2 separate regions of the Homo sapiens genome follow, and region 2 is linked to region 1. The links come from fine-mapping of genetic effects on gene expression. Tissue or cell type: neutrophils. Region 1 holds a variant in brackets; the other region holds the start of a gene. All regions are shown on one strand. Distances are from middle to middle.

Region 1 (8,327 bases):
ACCACTGACTCTGGGGACAGGCAGTGCCCAGTATGGATGAGATTTGCTCCCCCTCACCACACTCCCGTCTCGTCTCAAAGATTCATACTCTTGTCTTTTTTATTTATTTTTTATTTTGAGACAGGGTCTTGCTCTGTTGCCCAGGCCTGAGTGCAGTGGCACTCAGCCTCGGCCTCCCAGGCTCAAGCCATCCTCCCACTTCAGCCTCCAGAGTAGCTGAGACTACAGGCTTGCACCACCACACCTGGCTAATTTTTTTGTTTTCTTGTATTTTTATTAGAGATGGATTCTTGCCATATTGCCCAGGCTGGTCTCGAACTCCTGGGCTCAAGGGATCCGCCCACCTTGGCCTCCCACAGTGCTCTGGATGACAGGCTTGAGCCATTCTGCACACGCACCCAGCTACCCTCTTGCCTGCTCTGTGTTTGGGTGGTTATGTGTTTATTGGAGGCAGTCAGTTTGAAACTAACTCATGGTGCAGAGGATGGAACCATGGAAGACTGAGCAGTCTGGATTCAAGTGTGGACCCCGCTCTGCTGTGTGAGCTTGGGCAAGTTACTCAACCTCTTTGAGGCTTAGGTCCCTTTTCTGGAAGAGGCCATAATAATAGTAGCTGCAGTATTGCCCTGGGGATTAAATGAGAGTGTGAATACAGAGCCGCTCACCTGTGCTGGGTGGTGTTCTGTGTGCGAGACTCTCTGGTCCCTGAAGAAGGGGTAATAGGGGCCCAAGTGGGAGTTGACTGGGCCCCTGACACCCCAAGGGGTGGGCACTACAAGCACTGAGCAGCCTGGACCCTGGGTTAGAGCGATTTTCCTGATCCTGCAGAGCGTCTTCACTTTTTAATACGAGGTGTGTCTGTCGGGCGCAGGCCCCCGCGTGTGCCCCATCTGCACCCCTGACCAGCTCTGACTCACTCCTCCTGTCTCCTGCCCCCAGCAATATGTCGGACGCCTTGGCCAACGCCGTGTGCCAGCGCTGCCAGGCCCGCTTCTCCCCCGCCGAGCGCATTGTCAACAGCAATGGGGAGCTGTACCATGAGCACTGCTTCGTGTGTGCCCAGTGCTTCCGGCCCTTCCCCGAGGGGCTCTTCTATGAGGTGAGGACACTACTGAGGGCTTTCTCAGACCCAGCTCGGAGTCTGCCCTCTATGAGCGGGTGGGCCGGGCTCCATGCAGTGGTCCCGACTGGTGACAGGGCCAGGTCTGGAGCCAGCCCAGAACCAGGCTTGAGCTCCTGCACGGGCCCATCCTTCACCTGTGAGATGTGAACAGCACCCCAGGTGCCCTGGGTGCTAACAGAGAGCCACCTTTCACCAGCCTCCTCTGGGCAGATGCTGGGCAGGCCCTGGGGGCAGGAAGAGCCTGCCCTGGTGGTGCTTGCCCTCCCTGGGGACTAGACAGTGAGCACAGCAACCGCATGGCCCACCAGCTGGTGCTGATGCCCTGGGGGTCAGGGTTCCCGGGGTGGGGTGCGGTGGTGCTCAGGGAAGGTGAGGTTTGGGCACACCTGAGGGGAGGGAGACATACTGGGCAGAGGGCACCGCATATGCACATACCCTGTGGTGGGAGAACATGGGGTGTATGGAGAGCAGTAGGAAGACTGGTGTGATGGAAGCCGAGGGCATGAGAGGGAGAAGGCCAGGAGCTGAGGAAAGGGAGGTGGATCTCGCTTGGCCCCACGGGCCTCTACGGAGCCATAGGCTTCCCCTCTGCAAGAGGCAGGAGCCACCTCGGGGTGTGGAGCAGAGGAGTCACACTATCTGCTGACATTTGAAAAGGTGACCTGGCCGGGCGCGGCGGCTCACGCCTGTAATCCCAGCACTTTGGGAGGCGGAGGCAGATGGATCACCTGAGGTCAGGAGTTCAAGACCAGCCTGGCCAACATGGTGAAACCCTGTCTGTACTAAAAATACAAAAAATGAGCCTGGCATGGTGGCAGGTGCCTGTAATCCCAGCTACTCGGGAGGCTGAGGCAGGAGAATCACTTGAACCTGGGAGGCAGAGGTTGCAGTGAGCCGAGATCGCGCCATTGCACTCCAGCCTGTGGGACAGAGCAAGACTCCATCTAAAAAAAAAAAAAAAAAGAAAGAAAAAAAAAAGGAGGCTTGTGGCCGCTGTGCTGAGGAGAGGATGTAAGGCGGGGCAGGAACAGAGGCTGGGCCAGGAGGCTGGGGGGACCAGGAGCTGAATTAGTGCAATCACCCAGATGAAAGTGAAGGGGCCCCCACCAGCTCACAGGAGCAGTCGTTAAATCATCAACAATCTTGGGAGCTGGTTGGGCAACAGAGTTATTGTTTAAAAATTAAATTATATCAGCGTACAATGGGATACAATTTTATTAAAAACAAAGGTAACAAATACTCAAAGCATACCACTTGCTAATTATTTTGTTCCACTTTACTATCGTCTATGCTGATGGGGTTATTTCTGTCCATTGTGCTGGTGTGGCCACTGCACATCTCCCCTCAAGTCCACATCGATGTCATGTTGGCAGCCAGGAGTTGGCCATGACGGGAATATTCACACCATGGACACTGGCAAACGCCCCACAGCAGGGCCTGCCTCTGCGCCCCAGAGAGCTGGCTGTTGAGCATTTACCAGAACATCACTTGTGCTTGTGGTGGCGGTGGTGGCCAGGGGTCAGATGCTGGCTCTGTTTCAAGGTAGAGCTGATGGGACTGGCTGGTGGATGGATGTGGGGCCTGTGGTCCGCCTGGCAGAGCAAGAGCCGCTGTTCCTCACAGTGTCTTCAGCCTCCTGAGGAATGCTGTCTAAGTGTAGAGGCAGCGGGAGGGGTGGGCAAAGCTCTAGGAGGGGTGGCCATATGCCCAGAACAAAGCCTCTCTCTCTCACACACAGCAGGTGCCCAGAAGATTTTCATTGCTGAAAGAGTTTAAGCCCTTCCTGACTCTACAGGTCACTGGGTAGGGCTATATCCAGTTTAGTCTAATAAGACACTCATTTTAGAGAACAGGGAAAAACCAATTAAAAAACAGAAAATACAATTGTTAGAGGAAAGCAGAGGCAGGCTTTGGCCCCGCTTGTGGCCAGCACAGGGGCCCTCGCTGGCAGCTGCCGCCTGGAGGGTGTGCACACTGGCTCCTGCTGGCCGCAGCCCTGAGCTCTTCCCACTTCCCCGTGCCCAGGCCCTTCCTGCGTTCCCTTCCTTCTGTCTCCTATACCCGGGTCTTCATGGCCTCTGAGAGAGCTGGATACTCCCACAGAGAAGGTATACGAAATAGGACCAAGTGACACTACACTTCAGACTGGATCTCATCCCTCCTGGCTTAAAACCGCCTCGCCCCCAGCCTGTTCTCCGGACCAACAGGGTCCAGATCCTCAGTAGACACCAGTGGCCCTTTGACAGGTGGCCTCACGGACCTCTCCAGCTTCCACGGGGGCACCTCCCTTTGCACCCCACCATCCCAAAAGGGCCAGTGTCCTCTCTGGCCAGGCCTGGGACCCACTGCTCCAGCCTCAGCCCGGCATGCCCCTGCCTCAGTGCCTCATCCCCTGCTGTCAGGTCCTGACCCAACAAGGGCCTGGGCTGCTCATGGGGATGATAGGTGGTTTGCTTGTCCTCTCTCTGCGACCCCTTTGCAGTTTGAAGGCCGGAAGTACTGCGAACACGACTTCCAAATGCTGTTTGCTCCGTGCTGTGGATCCTGCGGTAAGGCCGGTGACAGTACACATCCTGGGCTGCCTGGGAAGTGGGCAGCAGTGGCGGGGGGCAGGGGGCCGAGGGGGTACACAGAACTGGCCCAGCTCTTTCCTAACTCCCCACCTTGCCTCTCTGAGCGGCAGCCGTCAGGCCCCCTACAGGCATCACCATCCCACGAGGGAGCCCATGGGCCAGGCAGAGAGCAGGCGGAGTGCTAGGTGGACAGGGCTTGGGAGGGTCCGAAGAGGGGACAGGCACGTGCTCCCCAGCCAGCAGGGACCTGTCTTCTTCCAGGTGAGTTCATCATTGGCCGCGTCATCAAGGCCATGAACAACAACTGGCACCCGGGCTGCTTCCGCTGCGAGCTGTGTGATGTGGAGCTGGCTGACCTGGGCTTTGTGAAGAATGCCGGCAGGTGAGGTGGCCGTGTTGGGCCAGAGAGGACTGGGCCACAGCCCTTCCTGGCACACCTGCCACCTCTCCTGTGTGCTACCCACTTGCTGAGGGCGCAGAAGGGTCCCGGTGCTGCAGCCTGCACTGATGTAGCTGCCCTCCCTCCAGGTCACCCCGGGGCGGATAGTCCAGCTCCCAGTTTACAGGGCCCCACGCTCAGCGAGCTCCTGGCAGCCTCTCGGGAGCCATGAGAAATCCTCACACTCTGCCACCCCCCTGGCCACCCCATCTACTGACCCCACCTGTCCACCTTCTCCTGCCTGTACCTGTGCAGCTCAGTGTGGCTGGAGGGAGATGCCCACATTTACTCTAAATTGAGGGCCACAAACCTCATGGGTACTCCAGAAGTTCCCACCTTCTGCGAACCCTTGGTCTCTCATCCTCCCTTCCCAAGCACTGTCCCTATAGCAGGTGGCCTTGTCTCCCACCTCCCCTGGCCCTAGCTCTGAGATCCCGTGCAGCCCGGCCTCTGTCTGTGAGCCCTGTTCATCCCCACACTTTCTCCAGGGCTTGCTTCTCCACGCCACTCTCTCGTCCTTTCTGAAGGACTGGGCTGGGGAGCTGGGTTAAAAACACTGCTGGGCCTTCCTCCCCGGCTTCTCCCAGCACACCCGCTGCCCCTCGCGTGTGCTACCCTGGCCTCATCTGCCCAGGGACCCACACCTCCTCTTGACCCCTCAGCAGCCCTCACCACAGCTGCTGAGGTGCAGAAACGCCCCCCTTCTGGCACCCGGGACCCTGAGTTCCTGTGGTTCTGCCCGCCCCCACAGCTGCACCTGCTCACTCCCCTCCTCTGAGTCACCTTTCTCCCTGTCTCTCCATGGGGAGTCGTCTGGGGCTCCGTGCCCGGCCCTCATGGCTGCCCTTGCAGACAGAATCCTAGAGCCCTAAATGGCACATGTGTCTGGAGAATTCCAGGCTCCACTTCAGGCCTCTCTCTCGCTGTCCTCAGCTGCCCACATGTCACCTCCACTTGGTGTCCACCAGGCATCCCAAACGCAATGAGGCACAAGCAGTTTGGGATTCTCCTCCACTGACCACCAAGGCTGCCTCTGCATGCGTCCCCTGTATCAGTGAGAGGCAGCGCCGACCCCCAGAGGCCCCAGCCATGCTTCCCCTGCCACACTCTCTCTGTCCGGGCACTCTGCTCCCTCCCGCAGCTCCTCC[G/A]AGATGCTTCCCCGACACTACCGAGCTCTTGTCCGTGTGCTGCCCGTGAGAGAGGCACGTGGCCTGGGGCCTGGCGTCCGGCCCACTGTCCTCGGAGCTGGGCGGTGCCTGGCATTGAGCAGCTTGTCTAAATGAAGGGCTGAGGGGCAGACGGTGCAGTGCAGGGGCCGAGGGACAGCACCAGGAGCTCGTGCTGACCAGCAACGTCGCCGACAGGGTGTGTGGAGCGAGCCCAATCTCCTTCCTGAGCCAAGGTTTGCACAGGGCCACTGCCCCAAGGGCTGGTTGGGGAAATCTGAAAGATGCTGGAAACGTTTTGGAAAGTCAAACATGCTACAAAAGCATGTTGCCGTAAGGACGGTGCAGGGTGGCAGCTAGAGTGAGGAATGAGGGCCCCTACTTGGCCCTCCCAGCCCCACAGTGCAGAACCTCAGAATCTGGGCAGATGTGCTGTGAGCTGCCAGAGCCCCAGCAAGAGAGCCCACGAGGCTGCCTCTGCCACTGTACCACCACTTCACCATTCTTGGGTCAGAGAAGTTCTGGGAAACGCTTCATGTTGACCAAACATAACAACCTGTGTAGTCTTAAAGCTACAGTTATATTTATGGTCCGTACAAACAAATACAAAAAAGGACATGTTAGGGAAATATCTGCACACTAGCAAGGGAAATAGCTCAGGCGGAGAGAGGCCTCTCTGGAGGAAGTGGGTCTGGGTCAGTGGGAGGCAGGTGCACAGCCCAGCCCTGGCCTGAGCTGAGCTCCCGTGACTGCACATGCTTGTCCAGGACTGGGAGGCCTGGGAGCCTGTCAAAGAGCTCTGGGGGTTGCAGGCTTGTGCGTGGGGTTACAGCAGGAGAGATCCAGAATCCAGAGCTGTGCTGAGTCCCTGCAGGCCGTGAGTGCTGACGTCCGCTGGCAACCAGCCTGAAATGTGTGGCCTGTGTCTCTTCAACTCAGGCAGTGTGTGTCTGGCAGAGGCACTACAGAGGGGACTCAGAGTACCTTGCACTGCAAAGGAGTATTGAGACTCCCTCCCCGTCCCCACCAGGACTCCCAGGTCCCTCTTCTGGGTCATTTGCAGCCTGCCTTCAGGGTCTTTCTGCTGAGCCTCGCCGATGAGCGATTCTGTAGCGGGAAGGAGGCTGGGAGCCTAGCGGGAAAGAAAGGCCTCCATTGTTCAGGGGTTGTTCTTCCGGCCTCCTCTCTCCCTGCCACAGATGAAGTCGTTGAGTGTCTAGGAGCCATTGTAGCCATCACAAGCCCCTGCAGAGGGGTGGCCGATGGATCCCCTTTGTCAGTTCTTCCTTTTTATGGGTTGAGACTAGGCGATCTAGAGAAATGGTGGGCATCTGCTGAGATTTCAGGTTGCTTGCTGGGGAGGTGGCTGGGGAAAGGGCAGATGCCTCTTGCTGGGTCTGCTGAGTCCTAAACAGTCTGCGCTCGGCCTGGACGGCGCCCCCCGCTCACAGCTCTGACTTGGCACTCAGCGAGCTCTCGTTGGTTTTCCCTTCGAAGCTGGGGGGCGGGCCCTTGAGCCTTTTGCCACAGAGCAAGTTGCACAGGGCGTGGCGGAACTTCTCAGCCACGAAGAAATACATGATGGGGTCGAGTGCCCCGTTGAGGCTGGTGAGGCAGGAGGTGATGCGGTTTGCCAGGGCCAGGATGCGCTGGGTGGCGCAGGAGGCCCCATGGCTGCGGTAGTGCAGCACGTAGACGGAGCGGTTGACGTGGTAGGGCACGAAGCAGACCAGGAAGATGGCCAGCACTATGGCGATCATGCGCACTGCCTTGGTCTTGAGGCGCTTCTCCACACGCAGGCCCTGCCGCAGGCTGCGGATGATCAGCAGGTAGCAGGTGACCGTGGTGATGAACGGGAAGGTGAAGGCCACTGCCAGGGACACCAGGGCATGGTGGGAGGCCTTCTCCCGGTACAGCTGCAGGCAGACCACCGTGTGGTTGGTCTGCACGGTCTGTGGGCTCACCAGCAGCGGGGCCATGGCCACAGCCACCACCACCCACAGGAAGGCACAGGCCAGGTGTGCGTAGAGGGGCCTGCGGAGCTTGAGGGACTTGACCGGGTGCACAATGGCCAGGAAACGGTCGGCGCTGATGCAGGTGAGGAAGTAGATGCTGGCGTACATGTTGAGGTAGAAGAGGAAGCCGGTGAGACGGCATGCGATTTCCCCAAATGGCCAGTGGTTCCCAGAGAAGTGGTAGACCAGGCGGGTGGGCAGGACCAGCACGCACGACAAGTCGGCCACGGCCAGATGCATCAGGAACACGTTGGCCGGGGTCCCGGACTTGTGGTCTCGGATGAAAAGCCACAGAGCCAGGGTATTGCCAACTAAAGCCAGGATAAAATCCAGAAGGTAGAAGGAGGCGAACAGCATGTTCTCCAGTGGCGTCTCCTGGCCACATTGCTCTGCCGTGGCCAGGGAGAAGTTGGTGATCAGACCTGGGGGAGCCACTTCAAGGCCATTCATGCTTTGGCTGGAGTCAGAGCCTGGAGGGAACAAGCAAACAGTTCACAATGAGCTTGCGATCTAGGCAGCTTCACGCTCTCTGAAGTCCAGAAGTCAGGCCTCCAATGCCTTCAGAACCTCCCACTTTCAAGCTCAGCACCGCCCACGGGGCTGCTGAGGGGACCTCCTTGTCCATTTGGTGTGCGTGAGCGTCAGAGGCATTCTGAACTTCAGCACAAGGCAAACGCAGAACCAGGGCTTGGAATTTCGCCGCTATGCAGCTGCACCCCTGCCACCCAGGAGATCTGAGGCTCCTCAGAGCTGGGAGGACCGGGTCAGTGCCATGGCGGGGAATGGGACGTGAGCCTTGCCTGGGTGAGGCTCTGGGTTTTCTGTTCTGCCTCTGAGGTGTGCTGTCTGAGTGACAGGGGTGGTGAGGGGCGGGGGCAGTGTGTCTCCGGGATTCCAGCTCCTCCTCAGCCCAAGCCTTGGCAGGTGAGTTCTGTTCATCCTGAGTGCCTGGACCCTCCCTGACCCACCTGCCCACAGGTGCAGTGGCCGGGGTGTCACCGCTTTCTGCTT
Region 2 (8,327 bases), 160 kb before region 1:
AGAAGTAAATAAATAAATCAGGATAGTGAACTGTCATTTACCTATCACCTAGCCAATCTTGTGTCTATGTCCCTCTCTCCTCCCTTGTAACTTAGTGGAGATTTAGCCATTTTTTTTCTTGAATAAACAATCCTTATCTTGTTGAAAGACCTTGGTTAATTTCCAGCACTCTGAACACTGAAAAAATTGATTTTGACAAAATTTTGCCAGTGTTTTGTGGCTTTTATGAAGGAGAAGATTTTCAGATGTTCTTACTCAACCATTTCTGCTGATGTGCTTGGCTGGAATCACTTAAAGCCAATTCCAGACATCATATCATTTAACTCATACATACTTCAGGACACAACAGGTAAAGATTTTACTTATTTATTTTTGAGATGGAGTCTTGCTTTGTTGCCCAGGCTGGAATGAAGTGACACAATCTTGGCTCACTGCAACTTCCGCCTCCGGGGTTCAAGCGATTCTGCTGCCTCAGCCTCCTGAGTAGCTGGGATTACAGGTGCCCACCACCATGCCCAGCTATTTTTTTTTTTTTTTTTTGTATTTTTAGTAGAGATGGGATTTCACCACGTTGACCAGGTTGGTCTTGAAATCCTGACCTCATGTGATCCACCCACCTCAGCCTCCCAAAGTACTGGGATTACAGGTGTGAGCCACGGTGCCCAGCCAACAGGTAAAGATTTTAAAAAATTAATGAAAAGGCCGGGCGCAGTGGCTCACGCCTGTAATCCCAGCACTTTGGGAGGCCGAGGCAGGTGCATCACAAGGTAAGGAATTCAAGACCAGCCTGGCCAAGATAGTGAAACCCCGTCTCTACTAAAAATACAAAAATTAGCCGGGTATGATGGTGCAAGCCTGTAATTCCAACTACTCAGGAGGCTGAGGCAGAAGAATTACTTGAACCTGGGAGGCGGAGGTTGCAGTGAGCTGAGATCGCGCCACTGCACTCCAGCCTGGGCGACAGAGCAAGACTCCGTCTCAAAATAAATAAATAAATAATGAAAATATAGTTGTTACATATAACAAATTTAAAAACTCTTTAAAATGTCTTTTCCCCCCAGTTTGTTCAATTGGGACCCAAATAGGGAGTACACATTCCATTTGGTTGATATGCCTCTTAAGTCTCTAACCTGTAACAGATAATCTCTAACAGTTTCTTTCCTCAGTTTTTAAATTTTTATTGGAAGAAAATGTATCACATGTAAAATTTTATAAAATATAGAATATGGCTGACTGCATCCTTGCAGTATACTTAACAGATTCATTTGTCTCCTGGTCAATTTAAAAAACAATTTTCCAGGAAGGGGCCTGTGAGGTTACAGGTGTGAAGGATTTTTGCCCTTGATTAGACTGCTCCTCCAATTCAGTACATTTTAAAGATTTTCAGGGATCAGGACACTGCCTGAATGCCTCCTCTACCACTCCCAGTATAATTTCTAGGAACTGACCACTTGCTTGTCTTTTCTGCCTAACTTCTAAACCCAATTGATGAGCGGACTTCTTAGCGTTACCTTCCTGACCCCATTCCCTACCTTCAGCCCTTGAGAATCCTGCCTTCTATCCTGGCTTTCCTGCCTTGCACTCAGGGTGTCCATGGCTTCCTTCCATCCTAACCTAAGCTCATCACACAGAACTGGAATTGTCTGGCCTCCTTACATATTTCTAGACACATATCAAAATAAGATTATAGGGGCTGGGCGTGGTGGCGCATGGCCTGTAATCCCAGCACTTTGGGAGGCTGAGGCAGGAGGATTGCTTGAACCCAGGAGTTTGAGACCGCCCTGGGCAACATAATCAGATCTTGTCTCTGTCTCACGTGTCCGTGTGAAGAGACCACCAAACAGGCTTTGTGTGAGCAACAAGGCTGTTTATTTCACCTGGGTGCAGGTGGGCTGAGTCCGAAAAGAGAGTCAGCAAAGGGTGGTGGGATTATCATTAGTTCTTACAGGTTTTGGGATAGGCATTGGAGTTTGGAGCAATGTTTTGTGGGCAGGGGGTGGATCTCACAAAGTACATTCTCAAGGGTGGGAGAATTATAAAGAACCTTCTTAAGGGTCGGGGAAATTACAAAGTACATTGATCAGTTAGGGTGGGGCAGAAACAAATTACAATGGTGGAATGTCATCAGTTAAGGCTATTTTCACTTTTGTGGATCTTCAGTTGCTTCAGGCCATCTGGATGTATACGTGCAAGTCACTGGGGATATGATGGCTTAGCTTGGGCTCTGAGGCCTGACAGTCTCTACTAAAATTAGCTGGGTATGGGTGTCCTGGTACAGGTCATTAGTCTGAGCTACTAGGGAGGCTGAGGTGAGAGGATCACTTGAGCCCGGGAGGTTGAGGCTGCAGTGAGTTATGATCACCCTGGGTGAGAGACCTTGTCTCTAAAAAAAGAAAAAATATAGAAGTTTATAAACATTTCTGATGTTATCATAAAAACTTTAGATACTGTGTAATGTCTGCATGATAGTCTACGTATGGATGTGCCATTATTTAATCACTGTCTGCTACTGTTTCCTTTTTTTTTTGCTATCATTAATACCTCAAAGATTAGTACACAAATCTTACTCACATCTCTGAGGCTATCCTTAGAATAGATTTTTGGAAGGGGATTATGGAGTCAAAAGTAAGACTTCTTTGAGACAGGGTCTTACTCTGCTTCCAAGACTTAAGTGCACTGGCACGATCTTGGCTCACTGCGCCCTCCAACTCCTGGGCTCAAGTGATCCTCCCACCCCAGTCTCCCAAGTACCCATCACAGGAACGATCACAGGAAGGCGGTCACAGGAACGCACCCCGACGCGCAAAGATGGGATCTCGCCATGTTCCCCAGGCTGGTACGATTCCTGATTCATACTGGAGAACAACTTGCTGTGCAGTTATATTTTGAACCTCATCAAAATGGAATCATACAGCGTCCTCTTCTTTGTGCCTAAGTTAACAGTAGCTGCTATTCGTTCAGGCTGTTGCGTTTATCCGTAACTTCCTATTTCTCTGTAGAAATCCACTGTATGATACACCACAATTTAGCCACTCAACTGCTGATGGACATTTAGGTTACCAGTTTTTTACTACTACGAATAAACGTGCTATGGACATTCTTGCACATGCCTTTGGTGGACGTATGCACTCATTCCTCTTGAAGTGAAATTTCTGGGGTCACAAGGTAAGCGTACATTTAGCTTTGGCAGAAACTGCAGCGGTTTTCCAAAATGGTTGCATCGTGGGGCTGTTTTTCTATCTTGGTCGCTGGACTTTAAGCGAGGCGTAATCTAGAGGCACAACTGGCTCGGGTAAGGCGTGGAGCCTGACTGTGTGCCGGGATCTGCCAGGGCTGCCACCAGCTAGCTGCACGGGTGAACAGACTCAGCAAGGTGCCACAGTGGCTTCCCACAGATCCACTCTCGGTGGGCTCGGTCCAACGACCCGCTATGTCTGCCGTACTGGCCCCGTACAAATATACTCATTCACATACTGGAAAACGGGGTGTTTTTCAGAGCATACACGTTAGCTCACACTGTAAAAAAAAGTCAGCACTGCGAAACGCAGTCGCTTCTTTCCTCCAGGAGGTAGCGCGTCCTACTCGCTCCGGAACAAAGGAAGCGCTCTGCAGGGTCTCGCGGCTCGGCACCTCACCTAGGCACATGCGCAGATCGAACCTCACAGAGGCCCGCGGTCCAGGCGCGCGTGACGTAGCGCCGTCCCGCCAGTGCGTGATGACCCCAGAGCGTGCGTTCGGTGGCCCATAGGGGAAGATGGCGGCTGCTCCTTTGGAGGAGCGGGATTGAGAGGATCGGGGTGGGGAGACCAAACAAGAGAGACATTTCTGGCTCTGAAGGCGAACGCTTCGCTGGCCATTTAGGAGCTCTGCTCAAAGCCAGACGGTGAGTGCGGCGGCGACACGGGACTGCTCGCCTGCAGCAGGCAGCGGCACTCTCCGCCATTTTCGGGCTCGGCCGTTGCGTGCTTTGGGGGCCTGGACGGGCGCCTGGGCACAGGTTGGAGGAACTGGGAGAATCGACCTCGGGGCGGCTGTTCGAGGCAGGTTCGAGACTTATGGGAGGGGGCTGGAGGCTGGAGGCCAACCGGGAAAAGCGGCCATGGTTAGAACTAAGGCCCTGACTGGGAGCGGTGGCGACGAGAAGACGTAAGTCAGGCCACAGTTAAGACGTGAAGTTTGGAGGGAAATGCATTTTAACTGAGGTTTGGGGCGGGAGTGGAAAGAAGTGGGCCGAGTTGAAGTAGTTGGTTGAAAGGGTCAAGGGAAGTTAACGTGAAATCTGCAAAACAGCTGAAGACTTAGCCGTGATGTTATCGTGGCTTGAAATCGGTGCTTATTATAAGGATGAGGCTACAGCTTGACAGGCAAAGCCCTGCTTTTTTGGAATAGTTGTATTTCTATTTGGTTTGTGCTAGATCCCTGTTTCTGATTTTAAGTTGTCTTCTGGCAACTAAGTAGTGAGGATCTTAGCATGCCTTCTTAAAAGAAATGACAATGAATGTTTGTACTTGGTTGTAACCCTTGGGATTAGTGGCCCCTTCCGGAGTAAGGAGGAGGCGGCGGCGGCAGGTCGGTAGGGAATTCCGTAATTGGATCTATTTAAATCAAATCAGAAAAATACGGGCTACTTGTAGAAAGCCTGTCAAGAATGTTTTAAAGTAGTTTCTACACACATGATCTTAAGTTGACTGTTCAGGAACTTTGGAAGACATTAGAATATGAACAAAAAGCCTGCACTGAAAGGAACAACTCTGGGGAGCGTAGACTTTACTTTTTTAGTACACTCTGGAGAGCTAATGCATGCTATATATACATATATATGTGTATATATGTGTGTGTGTATGTATATATAGCCTGTGAATATGGTGCAGTGGTAAACCTACTTAATTCAAACCTTTTAGTGACAGTTATGCTAGTTGTACCTCTTGTGGCATTTTTCATTTCCTCGCCTTAATTGCATTTTACCCATTTTTTATTACTGTAAGATACTTTTGCTTTTTTTGTCTCCTTGACCGGGAGAAGATAAAATATTGTATAGATTTGAGTTTTTGCTGAGACTTGAAGTTCCATATTTAGACTATCTTCTTGAAACTTGGGGAGAAATTTTAACTTGTCTTTCCTGTACTCCTAGGAAGAATTTTGGTAGAAAGTTGGCTTATGGCCGGGCGCGGTGGCTCACGCCTGTAATCCCAGCACTTTGGGACGCCAGGGTGGGCGGATCACCTGAGGTCAGGAGTTCGAGACCAGCCTGACCAACATGGCGGAACCCCGTCTCTACTAAAAATACAAAAATTAGCTGGGTGTGGTGGTGGGCGCCTGTAATCCCAGCTACTCGGGAGGCTGAGGCAAGAGAATCACTTGAACCCCGGAGGCAGAGGTTGCAGTGAGCCAAGATCGCGCCATTGCACTCTAGCCTGGGCAACAGAGCGAGACTCCGTCTCAAAAAAAAAAAAAAAAAAAAAAAAAGGAATTTGGCTTACATATATTACAATGGTTTAGACAAAAATAAATGTTTATCTGTGAAGCTGATGGCTTAACTTGGATAATTTTCTTTGGTTGGTGAAAAATACTAAACAGATTTTGCCATCACGGTTTTATATTGACGTAAGGCTTTAATTATATTTTTACTAAGCACTTAAGGTATTTATTCAGAGCTCTCTTTGCTAAGTAATAAGTTCATATACTTTTCCCATTACTTTGCGGTGGAATATTATTTGATTATGGCTGAAGTTTGAACTGCTTCATATTTCAGAATAGGATAGTAAGGTTACAGAAAAGCTTTATGATTACGACAAAGATATTAGTGAAAAATTTTCACTTATAAATGTGTTTCTGGAATTCTTTTTTTTTTTTTTTTTTTTTTGAGACAAGAGTTTCGCTCTGTCGCCCAGGCTGGAGTGCAGTGGCGCGATCTTTGGCTCGCTGCAAGCTCCGCCTCCCGGGTTCACGCCATTCTCCTGCCTGAGCCTCCCGAGTAGCTGGGACTATAGGCGCCCGCCACCGCGTCCGGCTAATTTTTTGTATTTTTAGTAGAGACGGGATTTCACCGTGTTAGCTAGGATGGTCTCGATCTCCTGACCTCGTGATCCGCCCATCTCGGCCTCCCAAAGTGCTGGGATTACAGGCGTGAGCCACCGCACCTGGCCAATTTTTGTATTTTTTAGTAGAGGCGGGGTTTCACCATGTTGGCCAGGCTGGTCTCAAACTCCTGACCTCAAATGATCCACCTGTCTGGGCCTCCCAAAGTGCTGGGATTACAGGCATGAGCCACCGCGCTCTGCTGAAAATGATTTTTCTTTGGTAACATTTATCTCCCCATTTCAAACCATTTACATTAGTCCTAGAGACTGAAGCTCTTCAGTGTATTGGAAAATCTGAGCAGTGCTACTCTCATCTGTCTGGCCCTTAAACATTTTACTAATTTTCTGGTAGTGACTGACTTTCTAAAGTTGTATTGTATCTTGTACTCATGATTTGTGTGCTTATAAATTCCCAGAGCTAGGTAGTATTGGAAAGGGCATGTATGGGTTTCAGCAGCAAATGGACCTAGGTTTGAATGCCAGGCTCACCATTAACTACCTTTTTTATATTGGGTCAGTTAATTAAACTCTCTAAGCTTCAGTTTCTTTGTATATAAGAATGTTAACTATAAAACCTAAAGGTAAAAAGTGCCTCATATATAGTAGGCATTCTTTAAATGTTAACATTTTTTTTCTTTCTGTGATGAATTTAATTGGTGACATCATTTTCAGTTTTAAACATTAACTCAAATATCTTTGTTGAAATTTACTGACAATCTCATTCCTCTGATAAGTTAATCACTCCTTTCTCTGCTATTAAAGCATTTTGTATATATCTTTAATGTATTTTGACTATACCTTCTCCACTACTTGTGAATACTTTGGTTTTTAGTTTGTTTGTTTGTTTTCTGAGACAGGGTCTCACTTTGTCACCCAGGCTGGAATACAGTGGCATGATCATGGCTCACTGTAGCCTCTAATTCCTAGGCTCAAGCGATCCTCCCACTTCAGCCTTTCAAAGTCTTGGGAGTCATGAGTCCCTGCTGCCAGCTCTTTGTGAGCACGTTGAAGACGTGCTATAGTACCTTATATTTTTGTATTCCTAAAACCTAGGCATTATACAAATTGAAGAATGAATTTTCTACAAAAATTCCCCTCATGACTTGGTTTATTTCTGATCTTTGGCTGTTGCTTATTAACTCTTTGCCTAGATTGTATTCTCCTTCCTTTCACACTATTCCTATTCTGTTCAGTCCTTAAAATCCAGCTAAATCCAATTAATGAGGTCTTCAGTGACTCTCATTTATTCATAACTTGTTTAGTTAGTCTAGTGTCTGTGTGACTGCCTTCTGTTACTTTGTGTCCCATTAGTACCTGCCTCTATGCCTTACCATTTTGAGCAGATCCTTGAGTGGGATGATACGTGCAAAACTGTGCTTTAGGCAGTTTGTTGTTATAGGCACCTGCTCTCTACTCTGTTTGCTCTCAACTTAGTAGGTGGAGCAGCAATTTTCCTTTTTTGGTATATGGAATATTCTGGTAACTTTTTTGCAACTTTAAGAAATTTCAAGCCAGGTGCAGTGGCTCACATCTGTAATCCCAGCACTTTGGGAGGCCGAGGCAGGTGGATCACCTGAGGTCAGGAGTTCAAGACCAGCCTGGCCAACATGGTGAAACCCCATCCCTACTAAATACAAAAAAAATTAGCTGGGCGTGGTGGCACATTCCTGTAATCCCAGCTACTTGGGAAGCTGAGGCAAGAGAATTGCTTCAACCTTGGAGGCGGAGGTTGCAGTGAGCTGAGATTGCGCATTGTACTTCAGCCTGGGCAACAAGAGTGAAATGCCGTCTTAAAAAAAAAAATTTCAAACATGCAGCAAAGGTGAAAGAATACTACAGTGAACACCCATATGCCTTCTGTTTGGATTCGACTGTTAACCAACATTTAACCATTTTGCTTTAACTCTATATCCTCCCTTTCTTGAATGATTTGAAATTAAATTGCAGATATACTGCTTTTCCCTGTAATACCTCAGGATGCATGTCTTTGAAATAATGCTTTTTCCTACGCTTTTCTACATTTTTATTTCAAGCCAGTCTCCAGCTGAAAACATATAAAATCATTATCATACCTAAGGCAATTAGCATGAAATCTTTAGCATCATCTTTTTTTTTTTTTCGAATGAGTTGGTGTAGTTCTATTTTTTTTTGGCTTTGTTCCACAGTTGTTGAAGAGTTGGTTTAATTCTAGGTTACACAGAGTTTAGGGTAGAACAAAGACCAAAGAGCAGTCTCTGGCAAGATTCT

Which allele goes with the higher level. Alleles are on the strand shown, and positions count from the first base shown. SD is a standard deviation of normalised expression in the study named.
As copies of A replace G in region 1, the expression in neutrophils of the gene that starts at base 3,724 in region 2 goes down (moderate effect, 0.68 SD a copy in BLUEPRINT).

What was found. PIP is the estimated chance that this variant, and not a neighbour inherited with it, causes the effect.
Region 2: it holds the start of WDR33, and the variant in region 1 is fine-mapped to the expression of WDR33 in neutrophils (BLUEPRINT, PIP 0.95).

What each region holds. Positions count from the first base shown.
Region 1 is chr2:127,650,175-127,658,501 of GRCh38, reverse strand. LIMS2 (LIM zinc finger domain containing 2) reads left to right here. Exons shown (of 10, transcript NM_001161403.3): 2 at 940-1,099; 3 at 3,606-3,672; 4 at 3,958-4,078. GPR17 (G protein-coupled receptor 17) reads right to left here. Exons shown (of 2, transcript NM_001161417.2): 2 at 5,863-7,786. The coding sequence starts at 7,766. The coding sequence ends at 6,747. Among named protein-coding and RNA genes, the nearest start is that of GPR17, 8.2 kb to the right of the region's middle. RefSeq lists enhancers at 6,036-6,115, 6,156-6,215, 6,635-7,360, 7,361-8,088. The variant G/A (reference allele first, on the strand shown) is at 5,284.
Region 2 is chr2:127,806,568-127,814,894 of GRCh38, reverse strand. WDR33 (WD repeat domain 33) reads left to right here and starts at 3,724. Exons shown (of 22, transcript NM_018383.5): 1 at 3,724-3,883. LOC124907885 (a long non-coding RNA gene) reads right to left here and starts at 3,644. Exons shown (of 2, transcript XR_007087230.1): 1 at 2,752-3,644; 2 at 1,163-2,383. RefSeq lists enhancers at 3,423-3,492, 3,763-4,052, 4,073-4,152, 4,233-4,312, 3,719-4,659 and 1 more.